Linked DNA regions of Homo sapiens. The protein of the gene in region 3 purifies or fractionates together with the protein of the main gene of each other region. This does not show direct contact. Each region holds a gene or a part of one and is shown on either strand. Other genes may lie near its edges.

Region 1 (3,650 bases), on a different chromosome or scaffold from region 3:
AAGTGGTTGGAAAAAGAAACAGTATTTCATGATACTGAAAATCAGATGAAGTTCAAGTGTTATATCCATAAATAAAGTTTTACTAGCACACAGCCACACCCACTCGTTGATGTATTGTCTGTGGCTGCTTCCGTCCTACAAAGGCAAAGTAGAATAGCTGCAAGAGAGGCTACATGGCCTGCCCTGCAAAGCTTGAGATATTTACTATCTGGCCTTTTACAGAACAAGTCTGCCAGTCCCTGGTATAGATCATCGTCTTATTTGTTGCTTAAAACCCTTCAGTCACTTCCCACAGTTTCTAGGAAAAAGTCTAAAACTTTTCACAGAGCAGACAAAACTGTTCTTGAAGGACAGTTGGCAAACACATGAGTCCCGACCTCTCTCATTACTCACACCTCACCCTTCTCATTCACTCAGTGAGCCACACTGCCTTTCCTTTAAAGACAATTCTCCCACCACCCCCATCCCCACTTGATGATCAAGTTAGCCCTGCCTTTGATTATTTCTCTCAAACACCTATCCCAACTGTATTTAAGTAACAATCGTGTAGTAGCTGATTAAAGACTGCCTGCTCTGGAGCCACTGCCTGAGTTCAAAATCCTGGCTTTGTCACTTAACAACAGTTTGACATTGGGCAAGTCACATAAACTTTTTGTACTTCAGTTTCCTTATCTGCAAAATAGGTGTAACAACTGCACCTACCCGAGTTTAAAGGCTATTAATACATGTGCATTAAGATTGTACCCCATAACAGTAAATGCTTCAAAAGCACCAACAATTATTATTCTCAGTAGCAGGAACAAGTTCCTGTGGCTCTCAACTAGACTGAAGCTCCTTGAGGGCAAGGATTATAACTGTCCTAGCTTTTGTGACTGGTACAAAGTAGAGCATTTATTCAAATGCTTAATGAACACCTAATTTGAATAACACATAACACTCACAAACTGTCCTCTTCAACCAACAGTTGCAGTGATTCAATCTTTGGGGGCCTGGCCCAAATGTTCTCTTTCAAACAAATGCCAAATGTGATTGAGATTTTAAAGCCAGCAAAATACAGGTGCAGTGGCTCAGCCTGTGATCCCAGAACTCTGGGAGGCTGAGGTGGCTGGATCGCTTGAGTCCAGGACTTCGAGACCAGTCGAGGCAACAAGTAAGACCTCATGTCTACAAAAAAATAAAAAAATAGCCAGGGCATGGTGGCACACACCCATAGTCCCAGCTGCTCGGGAGGCTGAGGCGGGAGGATCCTTGAGGCTGGAAGGTTGAAGCTGCAGTGTGCCGAGATCGCGACATTGCACTGCAGCCTGGATGACACAGTGAGACTCCGTCTCAAAAAATAAAAAATAAAAAAAAAAATAAAGCTAGCAAAATAGGCAGACACATTTATATCTAAGACACAGAAGTCTTAGAAAAGCATTTCATCTCATAAAACTGTATTAACTGTAAAAGCCCATATTTGCATCCCCATTCACAAATTATGTACTATGCCATCAGGTAGTTATTAACATTCAACTCTCAATCCTGCAAAAGGTGGGATGGTGTATCTTGCTAAAACACCAACTTCTCTTTCAAATGTCCATGAGGAGTCCTTCTGCAAACATGTAAGCACAACAAAAAGAGAAATGCGGGAGAGAAAGACTCAATTCTACTACAGATAAGACGCAAACCAAGCAAGCATGACACTTCGGAGTGAATTCTATCACTATCTTTAAACTGCCCTGCTTTCTTAACTTGCCCATAAGAGCACAACGTAAAGGCTTTTCTAGCACTTCCTGTTCTAAACTAATACCAGTTTAGATTTAAAGCTCCAATCCTACAGGAACTCCTTTTTTTTTTTTAATAACCAGAAGCCCAACATATATTGAAGAAAATTAAAATACTAAAATAGTATTCCAGAACCTTTAAAATGTTAGATTTCTTTTTTTTTTTTTGAGATGGAGTCTTGCTCTGTCGCCCAGTGGCGCGATCTCGACTCACTGCAACCTCCCCCTTCGGGTTCAAGTGATTCTCCTGCAGGCCTCAGCCTCCCTAGTAGCTGGGATTACAGGCGCCCACCACCACGCCCAGCTAATTTTTGTATTTTTAGTAGAGACAGGGTTTCGCCAGGTTGGCCAGGCTGGTCTCGAACTCCTGACCTCAGGTGATCCACTCGCCTTGGCCTCCCAAAGTGCTGGAATTATAGGCGAGAGCCACTGCGCACAGCTGATTATATTTAAAAATCAATCCAGCAATTCATGTTAAAAGGACTCAGCAGTTTGCATTCTCACAGTTAGCAAGAATGACGTGACGAAGATAGACCGTGAGTACTGTATCAATGTTAAGATTTCATTTGGTACTTCAGAATAAATTAGAACTAAGAATGAAGGTTCCTTCAAGTATGATCCCTAAAGATTTCATAATACTCTCACTTGCACAATCATGTGCAAGTTCAGTTCTGATTTATTCAAGTAACTAAGAACAATCCAGCCATGGACACTATTACAGTTGTTTGCGAACTTGTTATTCTGAATCTTCACCCAAGAAAAGCATTGTGCATCTCTGACCTTCCACAATCACAGGTAGAGGTGGCAGTGTCTCATTCTGTGATAAAGTTGCTATTTTTACTTGTGTACTCCTCCCCACCTTCATCCTGATACTCGTATTTAAAAACTATATTATTAGTATATGGGTCTCTGGTATCCTGCTACTCTTTGCAATTTTCACTACTCTCTGGGAGCCTCGCCATCACCAGGTCCAAACACAACTCATCCAAAAATGCAACACAATCAGAGGCCAAACCAATAGGCACACAGATATCATAACTCTCCTGATGTTCTCTGGCCTCCCTCGTGCTTCCTTCCATTCTAACCACGCCAAGTTCTTTCCTGCCTTGCCATCTTTGTCTCTCACAACGCTACAGGGCCTCTCCTAGGAGGCTCTTCTAACACTGTGGGAACCATATCGCTGTGAACAGCATTTAGGATGCAGTCACTGTCAATTCGATTTTGCACAGCAGTGAACAAGATCCTAGCTTACAACAGTTTAATGGTTCTCAAAGGGTGGTCTGTGGACCTCTAAGGGGTTTACCAAAATCTTTTCAGGGGTCTCATGAGGTCAAAACGATATTCATAGCAATATTAAGTTATCATTTGCCTTTTCCACAAAGTTCCCATTTGTACTAAGGGTGCAAAAGCAATGGTAGGGAAAACTGCTAGCTCGGCACCCCTTGGCATGAATCAAAAACAGTAGTTACAAACTGAGTGGTAAGTCACTGTATTCTTTACTACCATGCATTCACAGTGGGAAAAGAGCTGTTTCTACTTAACAGTGTCCTTGAAAAAGCAGTAAAATTATATTAAATCTTGACCCTTTGGTACCTGTCTTTTTAATATTCTGCACGACAAAATGAGATGTACACATAAAGCACCTCTGTTACATACTGAAGTATGATGGTTGTTTCCAAAAAAAGCACTTGTGCAGTCATTTGAGAAGTGATCTGAACTGGCCACTTTTATCATGGAATGCCTTTTTTACTTGCAAGAATGATGACAAACTATCATTATTGCAAATGTGAATAGCTGGCAGACATTTTCTTGGAAATTAAAGAAACAAAACAGTCAATTCAAGTAAAAACTGGTAGCATGTTGCCAAGGAAATTATTTGAACTCAAG
Region 2 (3,650 bases), on a different chromosome or scaffold from region 3:
CGTGCCATTGCACTACAGCCTGGACAACAAGAGCGGAACTCAGTCTCAAAAAAAAAAAAAAAAAAAAAAAGTAAATCCAAAAATACTGACAAAGAAAAGAATTGAAGAAATCCAAGACAAATCATGACTATATCATTTTAAATTATACAAAAGCATGTAGGTAATCCAAGTTTTCTTTTAATAGGTTTTATATGTGCTTGTATGAATACTGTATGAATAATTATTTTCCTTGCTCCTCTACTGATAGGAATTTTTTTTTACCCAAAAATCATGTATTACTTTTATGAAAAGAGAAAAAAAATTGTCCAAGCAGATTTTTTTTAATTAAAATGTTGGGCTGTTTACATTTCCTGATGTATCTTTTTGAAGACGACTGCTTGAGGGCTTTAAATATATAATATTTTACATACTCATTTTACTTTTTTAAAAAGGGAAGTGTTTACAAAATCATGCAACCATTTCTAGGTCACCCCAGAATTCAAGGGGAAAAAATAATGCGCCCATAATGACTTTTAAGTATCCACAAATTATTTTCTAAATATAAATTACAAGACAACAGTTTAATGGCTCACAGCAACACAGAATGTATCTTATGCAGTTGTATCAAAAATAACAATGCTGTATAAATGCAAATTAAGAGTTTTTGAAAAAGGTATTTATAAGCTTTAATGCACGAATTAAACATATACAGTCATCACTTAAAACTTATAGTTCTTTACTCAAAAACATATTGGTCCAACAATTTTGAGCCACTTCAGTCATTTCTTATGTATTTCCTTAATGTTGCAATATTTGGCAATGAAATTTCTCCACAAAATGAAAACTATTACCAATTTTCAACTAGCCAAGATAAGACTAATCTGTATAGCCCAGCAATGGTCTCCCTCCCCTCCGTGTCCAGAAACAAGCAACTGTATTTAAAGATGTACTGGAATACTTGTTCTCCTTAACTAGACCTGCACTTTGACCAAAGTGTTACTATAGCAGGAAAACTACCTCAGAAATCTTTGCTGGCCAGGCAGTCACTCACACCTGTAATCCTAGCACTTTGGGAGGCTGAGGCAGGCGGATCGCTTGAGCCCAGGAGTTTGAAACCAGCCTGGTCAACATAGCGAGATCCATCTTTAAAGAAGAAAAAGTAAATTAGCTGGGAAGCTGTGCATGGTGGCTCACACCTGTAATCCCAGCATGTTGGGAGGCTGAGGCAGGTGGATGACCTGAGCTCAGGAGTTTGTGACCAGCCTGGACAACATGGCAAAACCCTGTCACTACAAAAAATACAAAAATTAGCCAGGTGTGAGTGGGGCACAGTGGCTCACACCTGTAATCCCAGCACTTTGGGAAGCCAAGGCGGGTGGATCACCTGAAGTCAGGAGTCAGAGACCAGCCTGACCAACATGGAGAAAGCCCGTCTCTACTCACACCTGTAATCCCAGCATGTTGGGAGGCTGAGGCAGGTGGATGACCTGAGCTCAGGAGTTTGTGACCAGCCTGGACAACATGGCAAAACCCTGTCACTACAAAAAATACAAAAATTAGCCAGGTGTGAGTGAGGCACAGTGGCTCACACCTGTAATCCCAGCACTTTGGGAAGCCAAGGCAGGTGGATCACCTGAAGTCAGGAATTAGAGACCAGCCTGACCAACATGGAGAAAGCCCGTCTCTACTAAAAATACAAAATTAGCTGGGTGTAGTGGCACATGCCTGTAATCCCAGCTACTCGGGAGGCTGAGGCAGGAGAATTGCTTGAACCTGAGAGGCGGAGGTCGCAGTGAGCTGAGATCGCGCCATTACACTCCAACCTGGGCAACAGGAGCAAAACTCCGTCTCAAAAAAAAAAAAAAATTAGCCGGTTGTGATGGCACATGCCTGTAGTCCCAGCTACTGGGTGAGGCTGAGATGGGAGGATCACTTGACCCCAGGAGGTCAAGGCTGCAGTGAGCTGTGATCGCACCACTGTGCTTCAGCCTGGGCAACAGAATTGAGACCCTGTCTCAAAACAAACAAAAATTAGGCAGGGTGGTGCCCATCTATATTCCCAGCTACGTGGGAGGCTGAGGCAGGAGGATCCCTTGAGCCCAGGGGATCAAGGCTGCAGCGAGCCATGATCACACCACTGCAATTCAGCGTAAGCAACAGAGCAAGATCCTGTCTCAAACAAACAAGGCCGGGCCCCGTGGCTCACACCTGTAATCCCAGCACTTTGGGAGGCTGAAGTGGGTGGATCACGAGGTCAGCAGTTCGCGACCAGCCTGGCCAACGTGGTGAAACCCAGTCTCTACTAAAAATACAAAAATTAGCTAGGCGTGGTGGCTGGCGCCTGTAAACCCAGCTACTTGGGAGGCTGAGGCAGGAGAATCGCTTGAACCCGGGAGGTGGAGGTTACAGTGAGCCCATACCGCGCCACGGCACTCCAGCCTGGGCAACAAAGCGAGACTCCGTCTCAAAAAAACAAACAAAAAACCCAAAAAAACAAACCTTTGCCCATAATTATGGCAGCAAGAAATACTTACATTTTAAATTTAAAAAGTTAGATCCAGCCGGGCACGGTGGCTCACACCTGAAATCCCAGCACTTTAGGAGGCCGAGGAGGGTGGATCATGAGGCCAGGAGTTTGAAACCAGCCTGGCCAACATGGTGAAACCCCATCTCTACTAAAAATACAAAAATTAGCCAGGCATGGTGGCGGGCGCCTGTAATCCCAGCTACTCGGGAGGCTGAGGCAGGAGAATTGCTTGAACCCGGGAGGTGGAGGCGCAGTGAGTCGAGATCATGCCACTGCACTCCAGCCTGGGCAACAGACCAAGACTCTGTCTCAATAAATAAATAAATAAATAAATAAATAAATAAATAAATAAATAAAACAAAAAACAAAAAAAGAACATCTATAAAAAACCTACAGCTAGTATCATAATTAGTGATGAAAAATTGAGGCCGGGTGCAGTGGCTCACACCTGTAATCCCAGCACTTTGGGAGGCTGAGGTGGATGGATCATGAGGTCAGGAGTTTGAGACCAGCCTGGCCAAGATGGTGAAACCCTGTCTCTACTAAAAAATACAAAAATTAGCCGGGCGCAGTGGCGGGTGCCTGTAATCCCAGCTACTTGGGAGGCTGAGGCAGGAGAATCGCTTGAACCCGGGAGGCGGAGTCTGTAGTGAGCCGAGATTGCGCCACTGCACTCTAGCCTAGGCAACAAAGCAAGACTCCGTCTCAAAAAAAGAAAAAAGTTAGATCCAATGATCTCAACTTTGAGGGAGAAAAAAATATTGCAGAAAGGAGTAAGACTGGAAAGACAAAAGAGTATTTTCAGATGGATAAAAAGATTTTTCATGTTTTCCTTTATCTTTCAAATTATCTACAAGTTTGAAATATACCTTCATAATTATAAGTGTGTGTGTGTACATATATATACATTTGTTTTTTGAGACAGGGTCTCGATCTGTCACCCAGCCTGGAGTGCAGTGGTGCAAACATGGCTCACTGTAGCCTCAAACTCCTGGGCTCCAGCAATCCTCCCACCTCAGCCTCCCTAGTAGCTGGGTCTACAGGGGCACGCCACCATGCCCAGCTAATTTTTAAAATTTTTTTGTAGAGATGAGGTCTTGCCATGGTATGGTGCCCAGGCTGCGTAATAGTTTAAAATAATAAT
Region 3 (3,750 bases):
CACAGCCCCGGGGGAGGGACAGGTCCACCCTGCACAGCAGAGAGGGAGCAAGAGGACTGTCCGGGGGTTACGTGGGGACGCGTTGAGAAACGCTGGACCCAGCTGGAGCGGCCAGGGCAGAGGGTAGGCCAGAGGAGGCCACCAGGGAGCAGCAGAGGCTGGCGAGAAGCGCTCAAAAGCCCTTTTTTTTTTTTTTTTTTTTTTTTTGGAGACGGGGTCTTGCTGTGCTGCCCAGGCTGGAGTGCTGTGCAGTTCTCGACCACAGCTCATTGCAGCCTCGAACTTCCACGCTCAAGCGATCCTCCCACTTCAGCCTCCTGAGTAGCTGGGATTACAGGCATGTGCCACCACGCCTCGCTAATATTTGTATTTTTCATACAGACAAGATCTCACTATGTTGCTCAGGGTAGTCTCGAATTCTGGGACTCAAATGATCCTCCCACTTCAGCCTCCCAAAGTGCTGGGATTACAGGCATAAGCCATCATGCCCGGCCTCTGACGCTGTTTCTTTCAACCCCCAGGATTTCAGATTCCACCAGCTTATGGAGAAGGGAACCAAGTTTGAGATGCGTGATTGCCCAGAAAGTTGGAGGCTGAGCTGAGACTTGAACCCAGAGACCAGAACCTCCAGAGGTCAAAGTCCTCCTGGGTCCCCCAGAGAAGGGCCCTGAGATGACAGCTCGTTGGTCCTCATGGAAGCGTGACCCCCCCAGTAGACTTTCTCCCACACCCAACCTTGGTTTCCTCATCTATATGATAGGGACAAGCCAGACTCTACCTCCCTGGTGGTCATGGTCTCCGCTTATTCGGGTTCATAACCTTAAAGGCCCCTCGCACCACCTCAGTGAGCCATTTATGCCTGGCACAGGGCCAACTCTCAGTGCATATCTGCAAAGGAACCAATGAATGAATGAATGAAGTGACAAATGAATAAAGGAATAAATGAATGAGGCACTTATCATGTACCAGGCTTTCGTTACCACGTCCCATTTATTCCTCTGAGGCAGGGTCTATTTTATCCTTGTTACAGATGGGGAAACTAAGGCCCAGGGAGGAGCAAAGTCTTCCCCAAGTATGTACCCACTCAGAACTTGAGCTCTGAATGTCTCCCACCCAGCTTAGCCCAAGAGCGGGGTTCAGTGATGCCCACCCCCTAAGGCTCTAGAGAAAGGGGGTAGGCCCACATGCCAGTTTGGGGGTGGTAAAGCCAGGTAAGTTTTCTTTATGGGTCCCCTGAAACCCTGAAAGTGAACCCCAGTCCTGCATGAAAGTGAGCTCCCCATAGCTCAAGGTATTCAAGCACAATACGGCTTTGAGTGCTGAAGCAGGCTGTGCAGGCTTGGATAGTGACATGCCCTCTCTGAGCCTCAATTTCCCCACCTGTCAACAGCAGACAGTGACAGCTGTGATCAGGGGATCACAGTGCATGGGGATGGGTGGGTGCATGGGGATGGAGGGGCATTTGGGAGCCCTCCCCGATACCACCCCCTGCAGCCACCCAGATAGCCTGTCCTGGCCTGTCTGTCCCAGTCCAGGGCTGAAAGGGTGCGGGTCCTGCCCGCCCCTAGGTCTGGAGGCGGAGTCGCGGTGACCCGGGAGCCCAATAAATCTGCAACCCACAATCACGAGCTGCTCCCGTAAGCCCCAAGGCGACCTCCAGCTGTCAGCGCTGAGCACAGCGCCCAGGGAGAGGGACAGACAGCCGGCTGCATGGGACAGCGGAACCCAGAGTGAGAGGGGAGGTGGCAGGACAGACAGACAGCAGGGGCGGACGCAGAGACAGACAGCGGGGACAGGGAGGCCGACACGGACATCGACAGCCCATAGATTCCTAACCCAGGGAGCCCCGGCCCCTCTCGCCGCTTCCCACCCCAGACGGAGCGGGGACAGGCTGCCGAGCATCCTCCCACCCGCCCTCCCCGTCCTGCCTCCTCGGCCCCTGCCAGCTTCCCCCGCTTGAGCACGCAGGGCGTCCGAGGACGCGCTGGGCCTCCGCACCCGCCCTCATGGAGGCCGTGGAGACCGGGGAACGGCCCACCTTCGGAGCCTGGGACTACGGGGTCTTTGCCCTCATGCTCCTGGTGTCCACTGGCATCGGGCTGTGGGTCGGGCTGGCTCGGGGCGGGCAGCGCAGCGCTGAGGACTTCTTCACCGGGGGCCGGCGCCTGGCGGCCCTGCCCGTGGGCCTGTCGCTGTCTGCCAGCTTCATGTCGGCCGTGCAGGTGCTGGGCGTGCCGTCGGAGGCCTATCGCTATGGCCTCAAGTTCCTCTGGATGTGCCTGGGCCAGCTTCTGAACTCGGTCCTCACCGCCCTGCTCTTCATGCCCGTCTTCTACCGCCTGGGCCTCACCAGCACCTACGAGGTACCGGACAGAGGCCCGGGGGTAGGACCTGCCCCACTGGCAGTGCTGGGACCCCGTGTGGGGGAGGCGCTGGGGCTTTGGGCCGCTGTACAGGAGGACGCGGATGGCACCTCGGTGCTTTAACGGAAGGGGCCCCTAGGCAGACACGTGGGGAGGGTTCTAGGAAGAGGCCCCAGGCGCCCGGCGAGGGGCAGGAAGGAGGAAGAGAGAGCCTGGCGTCCTGCTCCTTCGGTGGAAGCGCGCGCGGGGCGGGGCCCGGCTCGACCAGGTGTGTCCTCACGGGTGGACACACACCTGCCCCCCACCTGCCCGGGCGTGCAGACCCACGTGTGCGCGCTAGAGGGGACTGCTGACGGCTCCGGGGTTCGAAACCTGGCTTCACTGCTTTCTTGTATCTTGGGCAAGGGGCGTGCCTCTCTGTTTGGGTTTCCCAGCTGTCCAATGGGCGAATTACAGGACCTCCCTCCAGGGGAGAGGGTAAAGCGATTAAAATCGTGACCGGGGCCCGGTGCGGTGGCTCACGCCTGTAATCCCAGCACTTTGGGAGGCCAAAGCATGCAGATCACCTGAGGTCAGGAGTTCAAGACCAGCCTGGCCAACATGGCGAAACCCCGTCTCTACTAAAAATACAAAAATTAGCCGGATGTGGTGGTGGGCACCTGTAATCCCAGCTACTTGGGAGGCTAAGACAGGAGAATTGCTTGAACCCGGGAGGTTGCAGTGAGCCGATATCGCGTCACTGCACTCCAGCCTGGGCGACAGAGCGAGACTCTTGTCTCAAAGGAAAAAAAAATATTGTGGCAGGGCGCAGTGGCTCACGCCTGTAATCCCAGCACTTTGGGAGGCCGAGGTGGGTGGATCACGAGGTCAGGAGTTCAAGACCAGCCTGGCTAACATGGTGAAACCCCGTCTTTACTAAAAATACAAAAATTAGCCGGGCATGGTCGCGCGCGCCTGTAATCCCAGCTACTCAGGAGGCTGAGGCAGAAGAATTGCTTGAACCTGGGAGGCGGAGGTTGCAGTGAGCCGAGATCGTGCCAGTGCACCCTAGCCTGGGCGACAGAGCGAGACTCCGTCCCCCCTCCCCCCCAAAAAAATCGTGACAGGTATATCCTAGGCGGCCAACACCATTGGCCCGGGGCACTGTCTACACTGTGCGCTTGCGGGCCACGTCGGTGTCTGCTGAGCGGTGGCTGCTCCAGGAGCCCGCGCCCGTCAGGCGCAAGTGGGAGGGCGCGTGCACACGCATGGACCAGTCCTCCAGGTCCACGGGGTACGCACAGGCACGGGATGGCACCTGTGCACGGGTGTGTGCGTGCGGCGGGGCCCCCACGTGCAAGAATCTGGCGGGCGCGGTTGGCTTCCGGAGGGAGGGGCCCACCTAGAG

What was found.
Region 1: the proteins of SLC5A5 (region 3) and RHEB purify together in Homo sapiens (affinity purification with mass spectrometry, with the first as the bait; one large-scale study listed by BioGRID). This does not show direct contact.
Region 2: the proteins of SLC5A5 (region 3) and ARF4 purify together in Homo sapiens (affinity purification with western blotting; one study listed by BioGRID). This does not show direct contact.

Annotation. Positions count from the first base shown.
Region 1 is NC_000007.14:151,509,747-151,513,396, forward strand, and holds part of RHEB (GTP-binding protein Rheb), read right to left. Parts: intron 1-3,650. UniProt on the Homo sapiens protein: Small GTPase that acts as an allosteric activator of the canonical mTORC1 complex, an evolutionarily conserved central nutrient sensor that stimulates anabolic reactions and macromolecule biosynthesis to promote cellular biomass generation and growth.
Region 2 is NC_000003.12:57,587,273-57,590,922, forward strand, and holds part of ARF4 (ADP-ribosylation factor 4), read right to left. Parts: intron 1-3,650.
Region 3 is NC_000019.10:17,870,314-17,874,063, forward strand, and holds the start of SLC5A5 (sodium/iodide cotransporter), read left to right. Parts: upstream 1-1,631; 5' UTR 1,632-2,006; coding exon 2,007-2,363; intron 2,364-3,444; exon of another isoform or gene 3,445-3,636; intron 3,637-3,750. UniProt on the Homo sapiens protein: Sodium:iodide symporter that mediates the transport of iodide into the thyroid gland. Can also mediate the transport of chlorate, thiocynate, nitrate and selenocynate.